Homo sapiens: one gene and its partners. The protein of the gene in region 1 binds, or shares a complex with, the protein of each later gene. Each region holds a gene or a part of one and is shown on either strand. Other genes may lie near its edges. The genes, in order: CNOT6L, CNOT11 and CNOT2.

Evidence for each region.
Region 2: CNOT6L (region 1) and CNOT11 share a complex: the UniProt entries of both Homo sapiens proteins name them as parts of the CCR4-NOT complex.
Region 3: CNOT6L (region 1) and CNOT2 share a complex: the UniProt entries of both Homo sapiens proteins name them as parts of the CCR4-NOT complex.

The regions. Positions count from the first base shown.
Region 1 is NC_000004.12:77,739,354-77,746,519, reverse strand, and holds part of CNOT6L (CCR4-NOT transcription complex subunit 6-like), read left to right. Parts: intron 1-1,644; coding exon 1,645-1,802; intron 1,803-4,200; coding exon of another isoform or gene 4,201-4,224; coding exon 4,225-4,379; intron 4,380-6,316; coding exon of another isoform or gene 6,317-6,412; intron 6,413-7,166. UniProt on the Homo sapiens protein: Has 3'-5' poly(A) exoribonuclease activity for synthetic poly(A) RNA substrate.
Region 2 is NC_000002.12:101,255,886-101,262,885, forward strand, and holds part of CNOT11 (CCR4-NOT transcription complex subunit 11), read left to right. Parts: intron 1-1,905; coding exon 1,906-2,070; intron 2,071-2,929; exon of another isoform or gene 2,930-4,156; intron 4,157-4,463; exon of another isoform or gene 4,464-5,987; intron 5,988-6,653; coding exon 6,654-6,806; intron 6,807-7,000. UniProt on the Homo sapiens protein: Component of the CCR4-NOT complex which is one of the major cellular mRNA deadenylases and is linked to various cellular processes including bulk mRNA degradation, miRNA-mediated repression, translational repression during translational initiation and general transcription regulation.
Region 3 is NC_000012.12:70,238,830-70,246,512, reverse strand, and holds the start of CNOT2 (CCR4-NOT transcription complex subunit 2), read right to left. Parts: upstream 3,081-7,683; 5' UTR 3,033-3,080; intron 2,773-3,032; exon of another isoform or gene 2,191-2,772; intron 1-2,190. UniProt on the Homo sapiens protein: Component of the CCR4-NOT complex which is one of the major cellular mRNA deadenylases and is linked to various cellular processes including bulk mRNA degradation, miRNA-mediated repression, translational repression during translational initiation and general transcription regulation.

The DNA of each region.
Region 1 (7,166 bases):
TTGTGAGGTATGGTGCTTCTCTGAGTAGGATCTGAGTGCTGAAAAAAAGTTACTGTTAAAAATGCATTTTACTTCTGATGCATAGAGGGATGTGTATAATACTTTGTGGTGGCTAAGGGTGATTTATTGCTTAAAAACATGATAAACTATATGGAAATCAAGCCTAGATAATGAAAAAGGTCCCAGATAGAAACAGAGTATAAGAGATGAGTGGTAATAACACTTAGGTAGTTTTTACTTCTGTTTAAAAATTGCTGGTTCATTCTCAGGCACTGGCAGGGATATAAAGAGTTTTGGCTATATTATAAAAATTGCAATCTCTGATCTTTTTAATGAAATCTCAGTTTACAAAGTCTTAGGAAAAAACTGAATGAAGCAAATGGCAGTCTGCCTCTTTCGCCTTACTTCCAAATGACATTTCAAATACTGAGAAGCATAGTAAGGTAAATTCAGGGTGCTTACTTCACAGTGTAGTGGCTTGGAAATGATGCTGGGTCATTTCCAAGATAAATACTCAGAAAGTACAAAAGTCAACTCAAATTGAAATTTAGCTCCCAGTGTACAAAATGGTCACCAGTCAGACCCCCCAGGGGACTGAACTGAGTTTCTCTTAATACCTTTTCCATCATCTGAAACAGAACCAACTTCAATCAAGTGTCACTTCACTTTGAATTCCTCACGTCTTATTTAAATAAGTGATTCTCAACCATGTCTGTTCATTATAATCACCTGGGATGCTGGGATCCTTTTTAAAAATACGAATAGCTAGACTCTTAATATTTCAACTTAATTAGTCTGGAGTCAGACCCTTACTTCAGCATTTTTCTTTATAAGGTCTACAAAGTGATTCTACTAGGCAGCCAAGATGGAGAATTACTGATAAAAATCAGGGCTTTTCAGACTTTAACATGCAAGTGCATATGAATCACCTGGAGATTTTGTTAAATTGCACATCCTGTCCAAAAGAGGTGTTTATGGGGCCACAGATTCTGCATTTCTAAATTCCCAGGTGATTGATTACTGATGCTGCTGGTCTTCACAGCACAGTTTTGAGTAGCAAGGATGCAAACCATCTTCTACTATTAGTTTGCTCACAGTCTTTTTATAGTTAAAGGACATTTAAAAATGAGCATTTTATTTCAGAAATGAACATTTGATTGACAAAAACGATTCTCTTACAACTAAATTTTGTTAGTCCATACTCTTCTGCTTCAAAGTAATGATAGCAGTAGGAGGCACAAAAAATACTTAGATATTTTGTTAATAAGAGGTAATGAGATTAGAGTTCTTTAATTAAAATGCAACTACAGTTTACTTTTGTTCCACTCATTTAAAGAAGCTTTTCTCAAAGTTATAAGCAAAAAATTAGCAGATTTAAAATTTAAATTTTTTATTAAAATAAATTTCCTTAAAACTCTCAAATATAAGCTGTTAGTCTAATTCTAGACTTAATAAAATAAATTTTGTATGATAGACTCCAATGATGTTTTAGTAGATTAGCAATCTTTATCTTGCCTAGGCATTTTACAATGATGATATGTGGCGTATGTGTGTGTGCTTGTGCAGGTGTACACATGATATTGCTTTAGAAAAAGTTGCCTAATTTTCTCCCGTTTGTCTGTTGTTTTTTCTCCCACTTCTTAGCATCATTCACGGTTATGTGTTACAATGTGTTATGTGATAAATACGCTACCCGGCAGCTATATGGCTATTGCCCATCCTGGGCATTAAACTGGGAATACAGGAAAAAGGGAATTATGGAAGAAATTGTTAACTGTGACGCAGATATCATTAGTCTTCAGGTAACACCATAGAAATTAAACTGTCTTTAACTTAAAAGGTGAACTTAAACATAAGAGAAGATCTGACCACTGGGAGAGATCCTGTGTTTAGAGCCAAAGCTCAAAAAGAATTGTTTTCTCTCCTCTTAAAAATAATGGACAATTTAAATAAGCATTTAAGACATTTCCATAGTGAAACTATTTTGCTGACTGAATACAACCACCTACTTATATTTATTTACTGTTTTCTTAAGTGGAAATAATCTTACCCGTTCATGTTAATATTCACCTCATGATCATTGGTATTGCTGAAAGAGAAAACCACAGAAGATTGCCAGTCTTTTAGGAATATAAATTTACCTTGTATTGGAGTCTGTTTTTTTTTAAAAAAAAAAGCTTGCCCACAGTTATTCCTTAAACAGACATATTTTAATATATTGTACTATAAATCATGCATATTTGCCTTACCTTACTTTATAAACCATCTCTGAAATTTAGATTCTTCTGTTTTATAGCACTTTATAAATTGAACTTTACTGAAGAAGCAGCATCTTTTCATGAAATGTGTTCTGTTGCTTCAAAATTTAGCTAATGATTAGCCAAAAAGATGTTTGAATAGTTTTTAGTAACTTTTTTCTTAGCAACTTTCAAAACATATTAAGTGCTTAAAGGTTTAAAAATTTTTAATTGACAAATAATTGTATATGTTTATGGGGTACATTGTGATGTTTTGATACATATATATTTTTTTAAATGATCAAATGAGGCTAATTAACATATTCATCAACTCAGAAACTTACTATTTCTTAAAGGTGTTTAAAAATGTTGTGTGTTACAGGCCGGGCATGGTGGCTCACGCCTATAGTCCCAGTACTCTGGGAGGCCGAGGCGGGTGGATCCCTTGGGGTCAAGAGTTTGAGACCAGCCTGGCCAGCGTGGTGAAACCCCATATCTACTAAAAATGCAAAAATTAGCCAGGCAAGGTGGCGTGCACCTGTCATCCCAACTACTTGGGAGCCTGAGGCATGAGAATTGCTTGAACCCAGGAAGCAGAGGTTGCAGTGATCAGAGATTGCACCACTGCACTCCAGCCTGGATGGCAGAGCGAGATTCTGTCTCAAAAAAAAAAAAAAAAAAAAAAAAAAAAAAAAAGTTGTGTGTTACAATTTCACACATTCTTTTCATCATAGCCTGAGAGGAAAAATTATTAAAAATTTTTTTATGTAACAGAGTAGCTTGATAATTTATTTTTAGGTTGCTTGGGAAAAAAGTAAAAATCTTTTAAAATTAAAATAAAATTTCTTCTAAATACTGAGACTAACAGAGAATTGGGGAGAGGAGGCGGCAAACAAAATCAGGCTATTGTAGTTTCTTGTCTACTTCTTGGTTTAGTATTTGTAGTGATAACAGCCTCACACCCTCCTAAATATAGCAGTTTGAAGGATAGAACATAATTTAAGAAAATTGTCTTATTATAAAAGCAATGCTATAATACTATACTGTATTAAAAAGAGATCATTCTAGAGAAGTTGAAAATTTTGAAAAAATATAAAGCATGATGGAGGGAAATACCTAATTTCATGTCATAAGATAGTTGTGTTAAAACTTCTGGAGTATTTTTCTTCTATACATTAAGTAAAATATATTTACAGATACATTTTGATTCTTATTTATTGTACTTAATGGATTTTCCATGTTACTAAAATTCTTCAAAACTCATTAATTATATGAACGTATATTGATGTAGCTTTTCCCATACCATTGGACACATTTAGTTGTTTATGGGTTTTTGCTGTCATAAACTCATGCTGTTAGAAACATCTGCATACATAAATTATCTTCATATTTATTTCATTTAGAAAGACCTGTTAAAATATTTTATGAGTCAAAGAATAAAATAGACTAATAATTATTAAATTAATAGAGGCCATTGGATGATTGCGATTTAGGTACTTAAAAATTTCTTAAAGTAGAATTTTTTGTGGATAGATTTTACGTTTCTCACTCTTGGGTATCATTTCTTTCCACCATAGTTCAGAAGGATATGCAAGTTTTTAAATTACCTTTTTATATATAAATTACTATTCCCTATCACAGAATCTATCATATACCCAACTTGCTTTGTTTAGTTGCCAGTCTTGAGGAAGTAAAGTATAATGGAGTGAACTGTAAATTGGGAATCAAGAGACCTTGGGATGTAGTCCTACTCCTGTTACTATCTGTGTGAGCATGAGAAAATCATGTCACCTTTCTGGTTCTTTCATGTTTAAAAAGCTGCCATTGTCAAGTAGCAGCTGCTAGCAATCAGGTAAGATAGTAAGATAATATTTGCTATGTGAATTATTTTTACTAAGTTACATCTTACTCATAATGCTGAACATTTTTATATCTTAATCAGCATTTTCCCTCTGTCATATAGATGATAACTTTTCTTTCATCTCAGGAAGTGGAAACAGAGCAATACTTCACTCTCTTTCTGCCAGCATTGAAGGAGCGTGGATATGATGGATTTTTTTCTCCAAAGTCACGTGCCAAAATCATGTCTGAGCAGGAGAGAAAGCATGTAGATGGTTGTGCAATATTCTTCAAAACAGAAAAGTAAGTTAAGGAAACAAAGCACAATGGTGTACTTTTATTTATTTAAATGCTTACACTTTAAAATTGTCTTTGGTTTTGCCCTATAAAATCAACAGAAAGCTAGAAAACAAGTATTATGCAACTTAAAACTGTTGTTAATGTTTCATTTCTCAGGCTGTGTATTCGAAATAAGGATATTTATTGTATTATTCCTTATGCTTTTATTACCAAATAACACTGAACATTTTAAGAGATACAGACTTGAATGGTCTCATATTTCAGAACATATTTTCATGAAGTAAAGTATTAGTTTTTGTGTAAAAAAAGAAAGTGATACCTTTTAAGGTTGGCCATAAGTGATCTGGGTTTCTTTTCTGTGATTTTTTTTTAATAATTGATTTTTGAGAATCATTCATTTTAAAATCATTTATTCACTAAATGTATACTGAGCATTTGCTTTGTGATAAGTCCTGTGCTAGACACAACAGACACAAAGATAGTCAAGACATAGTTCCTAATCTCACTGAAAGCTCAAATCCAGTAGGAAAAACTAGGCATATAAGACAATTGCAATATCATATGGTGTAATATAAGATAGAGGTCTGCCTGGGTAGATAAGAGAGGCAGGCACAGAGCATATGGAGGTAGAGAGTTAAAAGGGTTGACTGAGACAGGGCAATGGAAAATGAAACGTGACATCTGATAGAGGTTGAATCCCATGGTTAATAGTTTGGATTTCATACGTTAGGAAATCATCTTACAGGATAAGCATATACATGCTTACAGCTGTTTTCCAGTATTTCCCCATTTTACATCTATTTTACCAAAGCCAATCTGTTTTTATTGATCCAAGCATATTACCAGCATGACATGCTATTTTAAGTAAACAAATTCAATGAATTTGAAAGATATTTGGTCCACTTCCCATTTATCTATGCCTACTTTCCTGTCTTTTCCATGAATTTGTAGTAGAGATATTCTTATTTTGGTTAATAATTAGTACAAAGCCTTGTAGTATTTGAGGTCAGAATATACTAAATTCTTCTAATGGTTTGGTAATTTTTTATGCATTTTAGAATAATTCTATTAAAACTACGTATCTCTTAACTACGGGAATATGTTCTGAGAAATGCATCATTAGGTGATTTTGTTGTTGTGGGAACATCATGAAGTGCACTTACACAAACCTAGATGGTACAGCACTATACACCTAGGCTATAAGGTATAGCCTGTTGTTCCCAGGCTAGAAACCTGTACAGCATGTTACTGTAGTAAATAGACAATTGTAATACAATGGCATTTGAGTCTAAACATATCTAGACGTAAAAAAGGTAATGTATTGTGCTGTGATGTTAAGACACCTACATCATCACTGGGTGATAGGAATTTTTCAGCTCCATTATAGTCTTGTGGGACTACCATCGGCATGTAGTCCCTTGTTGACTGAAATCTTGTTATATGGTATATGACCGTACTTCCAGAGTGTTTGCCATCTGTCAGCCTTTTCGAATTGTTTATATTAGTTGTCTTGTTCAAATTTTAAAGCAACTCTTACAGGCAGCTATACAGCTATTTCCTTGTTTTTAAAGATGAGGAAACCAAGGTACAGACAAGTTCAATAACTAGTTCCAGTTACACAGTCTGATTTCATAGTCCATGCTTTTAACTACTGTAATAAACTGAATCTTTAGCCTTCTTGTTTGAGCTTTTGATATCACTAATACCTCTTATAAGATTACCTCATTTAGAAAAATTGCCCTGAATTTGACATTTGTTTTTGTTTTTAGACAGGGTCTCAGAGTCTTACTCTGTCACCCAGGCTGGAGTGCAGTGGCGATCATGGCTCACTGCAGCCTCAACCTCCCCAGGCTCAGGTGATTCTGTCACCTCAGCACCCTGAGTAGCTGAGACTACACGTGCATGCCACCACACCTAACTAATTTTTGTATTTTTTGTAGAGATGGGGTCTTGCTGTGTTGCCCTAGGCTGGTTTTGAACTCCTGGGTCCAAGCAATCCACCCGCCTCAGCCTCCCACAGTGCTGGGATTACAGACGTAAGCCACCGTGCCTGACGATATTTGTTACCTATGTTCATACACAAATCCCCTTGAAACACCATAGCTTAAAAAAAAAATGCACCAGTAAACTTGAGACATCTAACATCAGGCTCTTTTTCTATTTGCTATAGTTTCTTTCAAGATAATATGGAAGATTTTTATTATTACTCTCACAGTTTTGAGAGGAAAAATCTAAAATTCCTTAACAATTTACTAGAAGTAGTTAAGGCTTTGAAATAACAGTTAGAACTGTTATCTGGGTATTTGCAAATTGATTCTTGAATTATTAAAAATGCTGTGAACTAGTTAAGTAATGAGCACATAGGAAGTACTTAGATGTGTCACCTGTTTTTCTTTTCTTCCTCAACTCTTTTTTCCTGAATAGTAACATGGATCTGGCAACAGATTGAATGTGATACATCAGTATATTGTACCTCTTTTCAACTTCTTTCCTGGAATGACAGGACTATATACCTCCTATAGGTAGAACAAAACCACCTTCTGTCCCAGTACCAGATATTTATCCATGTCTTAGCTGACTATTCAGTGCCAACTATTTGGAATTTAAAGTATTATACCCTGCCTTTATTCTTTCTTCAGACTGGAAATATAGGGCAAAAAAAGACTGTGAGTTTTGAAGCCAGGTGCTTCTTCTATTTATTTAGCTATATAATGTTGAAAGACTTAGCATTTCTGGACCTGTTTCTTCATTTGTATATTCTTATCTTGTAAGATCATTTTTGTAGAGGTT
Region 2 (7,000 bases), on another chromosome or scaffold:
CCAGCACTTTGGGAGGCCAAGGCAGGCAGATCACTTGAGGCCAGGAGTTGGAAGCCAGCCTGGCCAACATGACGAAACCCCATCTCTACCAAAAAATACAAAAATTAGCCCGGCATGATGGTGCACTCCTGTAATCCCAGCTACTCAGGAGTCTGAGGCAGGAGAATTGCTTGAACCTGGGAGGCGGAGGCTGTAGTGAGCTGAGATCGCGCCACTGCACTCCAGCCTGAGCAACAGAGTGAGACTGCCTCAAAAAAAAAAAAAATAGTGTAGAAGTTGAGGGATTTTGTGCAACCGGGGTGTAGGGTACATGGATGGGAGAGAAGGTCAAGAAGTGAGATTAGGAAGGTGTGGTGGGACCAGATTTTGAAGGGTCTTGTAATGGTGTAGAAATCTGGGTTTAATTCTGTGTACACAGGTTAAGTAATGTGATCAGATTTGTACTCTAGAGATATAACTAAATGGTAAGAGGAAGTATGGACTATGGGTGGTGGGTGAGCAGGGGTCAAAACTGGGAGCTGGGGAAGTCAGTAGAGGGGGCAGGAGTAGTCCCAGCAAGAGAGGCGTGGGGACTACATCTGAGGGAATGCAGCCTGGTGACATTTCTGCAGTGGGAGAGATGAGGCTTCATGAGCAATTAAACATGGGACAAAAGGGAAGGAACATTCAGCCTTGTGGGAATTTGTAGCTGCATTGTGTGTTGAATCAGGTAGTGTATTTGGATAGCTGCTGGTTGCTCTTCTATTTATTCAACTTCTACACAGTGGAAACAGAGAAGAAAGAAAAGCATTTCCGAGCACTATAGTGTTGTCTGTTTTTGTTTGCATATATAAGCTTTAGCCTTTGCAGGAATTGAGGCACTTTAGAAAATGCAGTTATTGGGCCAGGCGTGGTGGCTCACGCCTGTAATCCCAGCACTTTGGGAGGCCGAGGTGGGTGGATCTCGAGGTCAGGAGATCAAGACCATCCTGGCTAACACGGTGAAACCCTGTCTTTACTAAAAAGTACAAAAAATTACCTGGGCGTGGTGGCGGGCGCCTGTAGTCCCAGCTACTCGGGAGCCAGAGGCAGGAGAATGGCGTGAACCCAGGAGGCAGAGCTTGCAGTGAGCCGAGATTGCACCACTGCACTCCAGCCTGGGCGACAGAGCGAGATTCCATCTCAAAAAAAAAAAGAAAAGAAAATGAAGTTACTAATGTGAGAGTTAAAGAGGAAAGAAACACCAGGCGGGGCACGGTGACTCATGCCTGTAATCCCAGCACTTTGGGAGGCTGAGGCGAGTGGATCACCTGAGGTCAGGAGTTCAAGACCAGCCTGGCCAACATGGTGAAACCCCGACTCGACTAAAAATACAAACATTAGCTGGGCATGGTGGCAGGTGCCTGTAATCCCAGCTACTTGGGAGGCTGAGGCAGGAGAATCTCTTGAACCCGGGAGGTGGAGGTTGCAGTGAGCCAAGATCATGCCATCACACTGCAGCCTGGGAGACAAGAGTGAGACTTCATCTCAAAAAAAAAAAAAAAGCCACAAAACGCAGCTTGGCAGTCAAAGACAGATTTTCTTTAGTTAGAACCTGAGAAGCACTCCTGGCCGATGTTTTAACTAAAGAAAACCTGTCTTTGACTGCCAGGCTGCGTTTTGTGTTTCTTTCCTCTTTCTTTAACTCTTACAGTTAACAAGTACAAAAACCTTAAGTTTCATTTGTAGGGCCACAGATCATAGAATTTCAAATGACATATTACATAGTTTGTAAATGTATATATTTGGTTGACTGAAACTTAATCATAATTTAGTTCTTAAAACTATGTGGCTTGAAGTGGCAAGTAGCAAGTACTGATTTTACCAGATTCAAGTTGATTTTTAAAAGTAACCATTGGAGAAATCGTTATACATTTTTGTTTGCAGGATTTTTACCTCCTATAACTCCACCAGAAAAGTTTTTTCTTTCCCAGCTGATGCTGGCACCCCCACGGGAACTCTTCAAAAAGACGCCTCGCCAGATTGCACTGATGGACGTTGGAAACATGGGCCAGTCTGTGGACATTAGTGGGCTTCAGTTAGCCTTGGCCGGTAAGGAGGAATCAGTGTTTTGGGCATTTCTGTGTGGTAATATTAGGCCTCTCTTGTTGAGGACTCTACTAAAATGATGTTTTTTGTAACTGCTAAAAGGTTAGTATCATCCATTTTAAAAAGTAGTTTTAGTACTGGATCTTAAATGGAAGTCTTGGCTGGGCACGGTGGCTCACACCTGTAATCCCAGCACTTTGGGAGGCTGAGGTGGGCAGATCATTTGAGGTCAGGAGTTTGAGACTAGCCTGGCCAGCATGGTGAAACCCTGTCTCTACTAAATATACAAAAAATTAGCCAGACATGGTGGTGCAGCACGCCTGTAATCCCAGCTACTCAGGAGGCTGAGACAGGAGAATAGCTTGAACCCGGGAGGTGGAGGTTGCAGTGAGCTGAGAACAAACCACTGCACTCCAGCCTGGGCTACAGTGAGACTCCATCTCAATAAATAAATAAATAAATAAATAAATAAATAAATAAATAAATGGAACTCTTTAAATTTTTGGATGCTAATAGCATGTAAATTCATTTGGAGTTTTCACTTGAATTGATTGCTTTTTCTGTTTTAGAAGAAAGCTGGATAAAATTTAGTGGGTTTTTTTTTAAGTTTTGATTGGAAGACTTACTATTTGTTAAAATGTCAATACTACCCAAAACAATCAACAGATTTGGTGCAATTCCTGTCAAAATTCCAACAGTGTTTTTTGCAGAAATAGAAAAATCCGGCCAGTCACAGTGGCTCACACCTGTAATTGGGAGGCTGAGGCACAAGAATCACTTGAACCTGGGAGCTGGAGGTTGCAGTGAGCTGAGATTGTGCAACTGCACTTCAGCCTGGGTGACAGGGCGAGAGTCTGTCTCAAAAAAAAAAAAAAAAAGAAAAATCCATCTTTAAACCAAAGAAAGGCTGGCATAGTAGCTCATGCCTGTAATCTTTGGGAGAGGCCAAAGTGGGAGGATCGTTTGAGGGCAGGAGTTCAAGACTAGCCTGGGCAACATAAGGAAACTTTGTCTCTGCAAATAATTAAAAACTTAGCCGGGCGTGGTGGTGCATGCCTGTGGTCTCAATTACTTGGGAGGCTTAAGTGGGAGAATCACTTGAGCCTGGGAGATCGAGGCTGCAGTGAGCTGTGATTGCGCCACTGCACTCCAGCCTGCACAATATCGTGAGACCTGTCTCGGGATGCTGAATAGCCAAAACCCAACGTTCTCTTGGCATCCTTGTTGAAAATCATTTGCCCATATATGCAAGGGTTTATTTCTGGGCTTTCTATTCCATTCTATTTGTCTATATGTCTGTCTTTCTGCCAGTACCACACTGTTTTGATTACTGTAGCTTTGTACTAAGTTTTGAAATCGGGAGGTATGAGACTTTCAACTTTGTTCTCGTTCAGGATTGTTCTGGCACATTCTGTGTTAAACCTGTAAGCAAATGAATGAGTGCTCTTGAAGTAAACAGTGTGTCCTGACAGAAAATAATAGGAGAAGGAGAACTGGTGGTCAGAGAGAGGCTCTCTGAGTTCTGAAGGAGTAGAGGAGGCACTTTGGGCTTGCCTGCTGTCAGCATTCATTTTCTCACTTGAGAGCAACTCAACAGGGAAATTGTAATATGTAGCTGGGTTTGTGAACCCTTGACTTTGTAATTAAGTAAGCTGAAGTATTTTGACAATGCCCCATCCTTCTTAGACTTCATAAACCTGTGACATTTGGCTTCTGATATAAGGTGACATGTTGCAGTAAACAGCTTTTCCTTTGCAACATTGTGAACCTTTAAACTATTGGGTATTAACAATATAACAATGGGGCCAGGCACAATGGCGCATACCTATAATCCCAGCAGTTTGGGAGGCCAAGGCATGAGAATCACTTGAGCCCAGGAGTTTAAAACCAGCCTGGGCAACATAGGGAGACCCTGTCTCTACAAAAGTAATTAAAAAAATAAAAATTACCTGGGTATGGTGGTGTGTGCACTTGTGGTCCCGGCTACCCAGGAGGCTGACATAAGAGGATCACTTGATCCTGAGAGGTCAACGCTACAATAAGCCATGATTGTACTACTGCACTCCAGCCTGGGCAACAGAGTGAGACCCTGTTACAAAAGCAGAGACAAGAACAATGTAACAATGGTTATGTTCTGAAACCAAAAGAAATCTTTTTAAGACTTTTTAAGGTTGTACTAATAAGTACAAAAGTACTAGCCACTAGTGCCAGATATAATTTAATAGAAATAAAATGATTACTTTTATTTATTCCTGACAAACACCAAAGATACTTTGAAAACTGGATACAGAAGTGATGTATTCTGATGGTTCTAGCTTAGTATTTATTATAATATTTATTTATAGTATTTAAATAGTAATTTTTTTTATCATAATAAAGTGAGAATCACATCTGACCTTCCTTTTAACTTGGGATGCCTTGAGTAGCCGTAAGAAAGTTGTGAAGTATATCACGTGGAGGAAGGATCACATGTCTAGAGTAAGGGCTGAGAAGCCTGGCCGAGTGGCTAAGCTTGCTGCCTGCCGTCCTCTACCCAGATTGCAGATGTCCGGATCCATTCCTCTTCACAAGTGTAAAGAAAAAGCAAGCATGCCTCCACTCTGGAGCTAGCCACCCAGATCTTCTCTCTGGAGGTCTAAAATTCAGATGTCTTCCAGTGGCATCCGTGGACCAAAGGTGTATTTTTGGATGATGCAGTTTGTGTTTTCTTAACTTTAAAAAAACAAGTAGACAAGTTAAACATAAGTGACTACAAGGGGTGAAGTTTTACCCTAACAATGAGTTTTCATTTCAGAGGTTTTGTTTTTCTTTATGATTTATTCCTGACAAACACCTACCACTTACTAGTTTACCAAACAGCTGGCCAATTTATCTTTTTTTTTTTTTCACATTTTGGTTGATAATATGTTATCTAACTTTTTGTACTTCAACAATCTGAGATTTTTTTAAATGGCATTACAGGATAATTTTAGTGAGCATTTCTCCTAGTAAGTGGATGAGAAAAGATGCTATATGTCTAAGGCATCTTTTCATATGTCTCTGGCCATTTTTCCATTGGGTTGATGGTCTTTTATTGATTTGTATAGTTCTTTAATCAGGAATTTAGCCCCGTGTTTTTAAAATTACACAATCTGAAGTGAAACATGCATTCACTTTTTAAAGGAATTATAATTAAGTGAACCAGGAGCAACCTGCCATCCAAGTTAAGAAAGAGAATATTTTCAGGGCCTACAGGCTCCCTGTTTCTCCCAGTGGCTGCCTCATCACTAACCTGATTTTTGTGATAATCATCCTCAATTTGCTTCCCTCCTGTGCCTGCCTATAGTTTCACTTTGCATGCCCTTGAACTTTATACATGTGGAATTGTACTGCATTTATTCTCTTGTGCCTTCCTTCTGTTGGGGGTTGACAGATGAGTCCATGCTGATGGCGTGTAACTGCAGTGGCTGCCCTTCATTGCTGCTGTGGTACCTTCACACTGTGGAGTACCAAGTTCTGTGTCCATTCTGTTGTTGATGGACATAATACTGCTGTGAACATTCTTGCACATTATTCTGGGGCGCGTGTGAAAGTGTGTCTCCTAGATGGAAAGAAATGCACATGTAAACATTATAAAGAAACATCAAATTATTTTCCAAAGTTGCTTTGCCATTTTTCACTCCTGTAGCACCATGCAAGTTACCTTACATCCTCTTCAGCATTTGGTAATGTCAAGTTTATACATTTTTGCCAATCTGGTGGGTATGTTATAGTATCTTGTGTTTTAACTGGATTTTCCCTAGTTCCTAATGGGATTAAATATCTTTTCAGATTTTTTTGGCCATTCAAGCTTTTTAAACAAAATCCTTATTAAAGTTACTAGTCCATTTTTTCCTGTTGGTTTCTTTCTTTCTTTTTTTTTTTTTTTTTTTTGAGATGGAGTCTCGCTCTGTCGCCCAGGCTGGAGTGCAGTGGCGCGATCTTGGCTCACTGCAAGCTCCGCCTCCCGGGTTCATGCCATTCTCCTGCCTCAGCCTCTCGAGTAGCTGGGACTACAGGCACCTGCCACCATGCCCGGCTAATTTTTTGTATTTTTTTAGTAGAGACAGGGTTTCACCGTGTTAGCCAGGATGGTCTCGATCTCCTGACCTCGTGATCTGCCTGCCTCGGCCTCCCAAAGTGCTGGAATTACAGGCATGAGCCACTGCGCCTGGTGGGTTCTTTCTTTTTTTAAAACATTGATTTAAAAATATATGTACAGTAAGTCATCACTTAACATCACTGACGGGTTGTTGGAAACTGCAGATTTAAGTGAAGTGATGTACAGCAGGTCCTTGAATAACACTGTTTCATCAACATTGTTTTATTATAACATTGATAAAAATAGTTGTTTTGTTACACGTCACTTCACTTAGTGGCAGATTCCAAGAACCTTTCAACAACGCTAAGTGAGGACCTGCTATACGTACAGACATACACACATTTTCTCTCTCTCTCTGAATCTGGCCCTTTGTTTTTCTCTGTTACAGATAGCTTGCCTCAGTTGGTAGCTTGTCTTTTCTCTCTCCTCATGATGTCCATAATTTTAAAATGTCTCCTATTTCCAGAACGCCAATCTGAATTGCCAACGCAAAGCAAAGCGAGCTTCCCCAGTATTCTCAGTGACCCAGACCCGGATTCTTCTAATTCTGGATTTGACAGCTCAGTTGCCTCTCAGATCACAGAAGCTTTAGTCAGCGGACCAAAGCCACCTATTGAAAGTAGGTACATATAAATTAATTTATACTCTTTGTTTTATTCTGTCAGCAGGATCCTCTAGGACTTTTCAGTTTTTGAGACATCATTTTATTTTTATTATGACTTAAATTGTAATTTAGTGTGAATCTTTCTAGTGTAGTGAGTGTCTAGAACATAGTAGAGATGTTCAGTGACAGTTAATTTCTTCTTTAAGAAA
Region 3 (7,683 bases), on another chromosome or scaffold:
TGATTAACACTGTATGTAATTCCACTCAAACATTACAGTACACCTCATATTAACTCTGCCCCTAAACTGCCCTACCTGGTACCCTGGATATTCTGCCTCTTTGTGTTACAAAATCCACTACAGATCCAGGTAACAAATAACATCATAAATGTTTGGTGGTATATTTTCCTGAAATCTCAGGAAAATAACCTGTCCTCAAATGCCTATTCAAGCAAGCACATGGCATTGTTAGTTTGCCTTCAAATATGTGATCCCAACAGAATGAACTTTCTACAGTTACAAATTTTAACAACAAAAAAAAGCTATTATTTACCACTGCTTTTAAAGAGCAAGAAAATAAATTGTAAGCTAAGTTCTTTTCATTGGTCTATTAATGCTTACTCATTATTTCATATATACATGTGAAGCATACATTTTATTCATATTATCAGAAAATCTTATGAAGTAAGTCTGTCACTAGAAAAGATAAAACTATAACTTATACAGGTTGTAAAAAATTCTGTAATGGTCTTTCAAAATACAGGTACTTTTAACACCAGTATCTACTAAAGGAATACAAATGAGAACTGGGTTAGAATCACTTCTAATAAAATCTATTCATACACCTGAAAATTTTATTTACTTTTGAACAAATAATTTTCAGATTACAATAACTGTAAAGCATCTCTGAAAAATCAAAAAGTGCAACATCCAAAGTTATAAAGCAAAAACAAAGGTAATTAGTTCTTGTAGGGAGGTATATGGGAAGTTGTATCATTCTGAATTTTTTTGTTTTTGTTTTTTGCCCAGCATCAGAAGATAAGCCACAATCTGAGTTTTATCTTCAAGAGCAGGTACTTGGGGATATAAATCACTCATACACAAGCATTTTGCCCTCATTTTTCCACCATGTAAATTAAAGTATTATAGAAATTGAAAAATTGTATAGGCTGTATTTGTTGCTTGGTTAAACAGGCAATTCTCATTCCCTGAGATCAGATTAGGTTACAGATATCTCTACATTGTATACTTAGAAAAAGATTCCTGCCAACAAATGTTTACATTAACTTATTTGTATTGATAAAGCACTAATCAAGATGCAAAAAAAACTTCAGCAGTTTCTCACTTCCTCTCTAAAATACAAAGTATTCACAAAAATTATTACAATTCAAGCTCTCAGAAAATATGAGAGAAAAGTACCTTTTTTACAGTAAGGATCTTACAAAGTCAAGAAATAAGTGAGTAGAGTGGAACATGTTTTGTCTTTAAGTGTATTTTGTATTTTTTTCTTTAGATTTAACATTATAATAGAACTACAAACTAAACAAATTCAACATACAGAGCTTACTAATTATCTTGGTCCATTATAAAACATTTCAATGAACTGGGATGTGAATATAGACACTTAACCATTTCAGCCAACTATGATTCTTAACCCTTTCAATCTGCAATAGTTACCTTACAAAATTGTGAGATTTATTCATTGACGTTTGGAAAGAACTGTTGTCAATTATGCCAAGCATTCCCAAACTCAACATCAACCTTGCATGTAAATGGATACTTTAAAATTTCTATCTCATCCCTCACCCCATACTTTATTCTTTCCATTTATATTGCTTCAAAAGGGAAATCAACAGTCACACTTATGATTCCGAGCTCTAAAAATTCCTAATATTAAGCATGACACTAAATATGTTCAACTTTGAACCTTAAATTCAAGTTGGCCTCCCTCGTGAACTGATTTTAACTGAGTACTTTTTACCATTTCGCCAAGAACTAAGGGTTCAAAGCAGTGTACTTAATTATGAGGAATTGCCCAAACGATTTTAAAAGGAGTGGGATTCTCTGACCAAGACTTTTATGAAAATGAAACAAAATATGTTGCACTCAGTCTTCCGGATGTTGAAAAGTGAAGATGTCTCCAAGGATTCGAAGGAAGTTGATGTTTAGGTTCCCTCTGAGAGGGTGGTACCCTTAATGTAAGACTTTTGTGGTAGTAATACCGTACCTACAGGCCTGGAATAAATATAAGGTCTAAAACCTTGGAAATACTTTGTATAAAAGAAAACTCCAATTCTCTTTTGCTAAGGACCACAGTTACCAAGAGTTATCAGCTTTCACCCGGACAGACAACAGTGCTTCAATGAAGAACTACAAAGGCCTCTTTTAACCCTACTCTTTTCTTCTGTTAAACTTTTAAGCGAGACCTACGACAGCAAAAGGTGGAGAGGCCCCTGCGGAAGTAGAAACCCAGGACTTGCAACTTCACAGACAGAAGCGTCTGTGGTTCCTCCGCCGCCCCAGGATCATCCGGACTCAGTCTACGACACTACGGAAGCTTCACCTTCCTGGTGCGGTGGCAGAGGCGGCATCGCAGTTGCATTCCTTCTCCCTCCACCATGCACAGCCTTCGGTATCCCAGGGCCTGCAGGATCCTGACACCCGTTAGCCAGTCCAGTGTCTCCCATCTGACACTTGCAAACACACTAACAGAAATACACATAACTGGCAGATGATATACGTGTATTGAGAGAAGGTAAGAAGCCACAGACAGCACCAGCTGCCGGGAAGGCGGCAGAGCCGTCTAAAGCGGGCTCGAGCTCGTCGGCCACGGCCACGGCCGCTGCCGCCTTCTCTTCTCCCCCAGGAAGCAGCGCGGCGGCAGCGGCTCCTCCGCGCTGGCGGGAGCCTAGGGGAGTGGAGTCTGGGGAAGCCCCACCACTCGCGGATGGGACCGGGCCTAGGATCTGGAGCTGCTGCTGCTGCAGCGGCCCGAGTACAGCGACGCTTTACGTCCGGTCCACCACCACCCCCATACACACCCCCTCCCTCCCTCCACCGCCGCCACCCCCCTCCCCGCCCGCTCCGCTCTCCGTCTCTCGATTGGAGCCGAGACAAAAGCAACGGGAAGCGGTGGGCCGGGACGCTACCGGCGGACCCTGGGCGCGACCGGACCGGCCCCGGGGCATTCCCCCGCCTTGCGGGGGCCCCGAATCTGCCGCCCCCGCCGCGCGCCCCGCTGCCAGACTTCCGAAAATTTACCAAAAACTCACCGCATGAATTTTCTTGTCCCGCGGATCCAAGATGGCGACGTATCCACCGCGGAGGCTGCTGGGAGCAAGACCTTTACCCTCTGACCGCCGCCGTGACCCCCGTCGCTCCGGCTTCCCTCCAGGCGGCAGCGGAAGGTGGGAGCGACGACTGCAAAACGGCAGCGATGGGGTGGGTAGGCAGGCCGCTTTCAGCGCGCTTCTAACAAGGTGGAGAGAGGCGCTTCACTTCCCTACCGCCCTTACCGCCGCTCCGTCTTGTCTCCCACCGACTCACAGGGAGGCTTGCTGCTCCTCCGCGGCCGTTACAGAGAGCGGGGCTTCTGCGGCCGCTACCGTTTCCCTGGGGCTAGGTTGCTTCGCAGAAGGCTCTGGCCCTGAGTCCGAGGGGGACTGCGGGGTCCAGGGGCGATGAATGGTGAGGTGGCTTCAGTCCGCCCTCCCCGGGGACGCTGAGCGTGTTCGTGTTCGTGTTTGTGTTTGTGTTTGTGTTGGACACCCCCGCCCCCGCACGTCCGCCTCGTCACTCCTCCCCTCCTCACTCCCGCCACCTGGAGCGAATCTGATCGTGTCCCTGTTTCCTCCCTCAGCTCCCGCAACCTCCGGAGCTTGTGCGCGTACTTCAGGGACCGGCACCACGTCACCGTCACCTCCTGAGTAGTGAGTTCCCCTCTGATGAAACCACTGGTGTGTTTACTCACCATCCCCACCATTTTTTTTTCCCCAACCTGATGGAAGGAAGTACATAATGGAGAGCAAGTTTTTAAAGCACGGTCGTGTCGTGTGAACTTGCTCTAGCCAAATTAGGTTTATAGCACTTTTTTTGGCTCTCATTACCTCCAGTCCCCACATAAACAAGAGTGACCAGCTGGGTCATCCGCAAGACCGTTTGAAATTATTGTGGCTTGGGTGGAAACTTAAAGGAGTGAAGTATCTGCTTTCCAGAAAAATCGTTGTCATTCAAAGTGAAATTAAACTTGTTTTCTTTGCAATAATTCGCCTTTATTTCCTTGTATATCTGTAAACTCTTCACTTTTTTGTAATTACTAGACAATTCGGACTTAAAAAGAGCCTCAGCATGTGTATTTTGGAATTGTGTAGCTTCATAATGTGAAAATTATTCTTTTCTATTTGAGTAAAGTACAGTTAATTTGAAGTAAATAAAATTTCTATTTCCATTGGTTGTTTCTTTTAAAAAGTCACCTTTTACTTACAAAAGAATCACTGTAATCCAGTTTACATTTATCATTGAAGGTCAAAAGCAAGAAATAGGAAGAAACACAAGCATACTATAAAATAAAAGGTAACTGTCATGTTTTTGAAGGTAAGGTGTTTTGACATATCAGCAGACATTGTGTGAATTTATTTCAACTCCTAGTGGTACTGGTGTAGGTAGAAAATGTTTTGCTTGGTTATTCATTTCATCAAACACTCTACTTCACTGTTTTTTTTTCACTTCAGGAAAATTCGAGGAGGAACAACACATACTAGTGTCTTTCCTTTCTTTCTCCCCGTCTTCTGCAAATAGTCCCTTCCTCTTCCTGCTTTCTCCTCCTTCTCATGTTAACATCTTCAACCATAAGATGGTGTGTTAAAAGATTGAATATACCTCTATGGAATGACTTCCAGAGGGTGTAAGTCTGATATGAGAGTTTTATTACCTTGAGTATTTTACTGGAAGAGATAGAACAACAAACATTTTCATAATAAATGTGTGGGTTAGGAGTGTTAGGAGAAAATACACTGATACTATTACTTTCAATATTTGATACTACTTACTTTGACTCTCACTGAACACCTATTTGTTTAGGATGAATTCACTTTAAGCCGGGTTGAAGAACAAGCCTTTAATTGTCCTATTATTTGTGCCAAATCTATTATAAATTTGTTAAAAAATTTTTAATACCTACCTTAGAGGGTACTCTAGGTATTTAATGAGCTAGCATTTGTTAAAGGCTTGTATAGTAAGAATTCTTATAGTAAGAGTTCTTACCAATAGATGGTATATTTTTTAAATTGTCCTGTTGCATCAAAAAGTTCATCTTTATTGGTAATGTTGATTAAGTTTGCCCATTTGGTAGTTTGGTTTCTTTTAACTATCTTACTAGATTTTCTTACTTTTACCTGAAAAGTAGTCCTTACTAATAGGCACATGTTTTGTATATTTCCAAAATATGTATTATGTTAAATTCTCTGTACACTTTATTTAAAAATTACAGACGTTGAGGGAAAAAAAATACCCTATTAAGGGAAGAATGAGTTTGTGTATAACTTGTAGAAGAAGGAGGCCACCCATTTTTAGAAAAATATGGATGGTATTGAAAATTTTGCCATGGCAAGGGATAAAAAGGACAGGCTTCTCTAATGTGTCTGAAACAACATTTGAATCCCCTTTGTTCATTCCCTAAATCTGCTGCTCCTTTAGAATTCCTGATTTTCATAAATAGTACCACCATTCACTTATTTGCTCAGGCATAAAACTTGGAATTTTCTGATTCTTCACACTCATACAACTCATCAGACAGTACCATCAGTTCTTCCTGACAAATACATTCTGAATTTAGCTACTTATCACTTCCACTGGTACAACCCTTGGGAGCCACCATCATCTGTTGCTGGACCACAGCAATAACCACACTAGTTGCTATCACTTTCTATCTGTACCCTCATGAATATTTTCCCATTTAAACCATTCTCTATATACCAACCAAAGCAATCACTTAAAAAATGTTATTAGGTTATGTCACTCCCTTGTTTAAAACCCTCCAATAGCTTCCTTATGCACACAGAATGAAATCGGAATTCCTTACCATAGCCTTCAAGACTGCATAATCTGGCTCCTGCCCACTTCTCCATCTTCCCAGGAAGCAGCACAGGAAGTTGTTCTCACCCTTCTTACTGCCTCCTTTCTGTCGTGGGCTGTGCTTTTTCTAGTCTGTAGCAGAGTCTGTTAGTTGTCCCCAAAAATTCCTCCATTTTTTTCATAGTAATAGACATGGATACATGGCTACCCAGAACAAAGACTATATTTTGCAGCCTTCCTTGTAGCCATGTAATAGTGCTGGCTGATGGGATGTAAGCAGTATATCATGTGGCACACTTGTAAAACCATCCTTAAAAGATAGTTGGTGCACACCTTCAATGCGGCTTTTCCTTTATCCTGTACCGTGGAATATAGATGTGATGGCTTAGAACTGTAGCTGCCAATTTGTGCCTCATGCAAGTTCTCTCATTCTAGGGATGGCAAAACTAAACTGGTGGAAACCAGGGTCTGTGAGAACTTTATGGATCAGAGCACCATGCTAGCCCTGCAGTCGTAAATGTCTATATTATTAAAGCCACTATTTTGGAGTCTCTTGTTCTCAACTGAATTTAATCTTACCTGATACTCTGTCTCAGGGCCTTTGCACTTGCTTTTTATTTTTTATTTATTTATTTTTTTTCTGCCTGGGATGTGGTCTTCTGTCTTGGATATGGCTGACTCATTCTCTTCCTTCAGGTTAACCCAAATATCTCTGACAGGCCTTCCCTGGCCACCGTATCTAAAATAGCTCACGTTCCCATTTATTCTCTGTCAATCACGTGCCCCTCTATTTTCTTAATAGCATTTATAATTTATCATTATCTTGTTTATTCACTGTTTATTTTCTACCTCCCTTCACCCTACAAAAATATAAACTACACCTGTTTTTTTCCACTACTTTATCCTTCACACATGGTAGGCATTAGATAAATGCTGTTAAATTAGTGAGTGAATGAATCAACAAAATTCTTATCCAAGATTAGCTAGACTTTTTAAATAATAAATGAGTAAATGTCAACAGATATCCTTAACACAAAATTTGTAAAATCCAATCTAGGAAACAGGAAAAACAGTACTAAACTAATAGGATATTCCTGACCTCCAACTTAATAAAGAAGATGTCTACCTTTTTCTGGGAAATCTGTAAGGCTAGTACAAGTTAAAAAAAAAAAGACTGCACTGCAGTATATCCAGGGCTAAAATTCACACTAAAAGGGGTCTGAATTATAATTTACTAGACCTCAGTTTCTTCATCTTAAATATGTGTAAGCTTTGAATGGTAATACTATAACAGTTAAAAGTTTAATAGTAAGCCCAACTTATGAGTGACAAAACATGTTAAACATTAATTTAGTCTTCAGGCACTATTTTAACAAGTGGTTATTTCTTGATAATACTGGCAAGGATTCAGAGAAACAGGGCTGCTTATATTGCTGAGAGTGTATGTTGGCAGCACTTTTCTAGAGTGCAGTTTGGCAATATGTATCAAAAGCCTTGAGCCATGTGCATTTGACCCAGCGATTCTTTTAGAAATGTGTCATAAGCAGGCTGGGTGCAGTGGCTCATGCCTGTAATCCCAGCACTTTGGGAGGCCAAGGCGGGTGGATCACCTGAGGCCAGGAGTTTGAGACCAGCCTGGCCAACATGGTGAAACCCCGTCTCTACTAAATACAAACAAATTAGCTAGGTGTGGTGGTGCACGCCTGTAGTCCCAGCTACTTGGAGGCTGAGGCAGGAGAATCGCTTGAACCCGGAAGGCGGAGGTTGCGGTGAGCTGAGATCATGCCACTGCACTCCAGCTTGGGTGACAGAGCAAGACTCTGTCCAAAAGAAAAGGCCAGGCACGGTGGC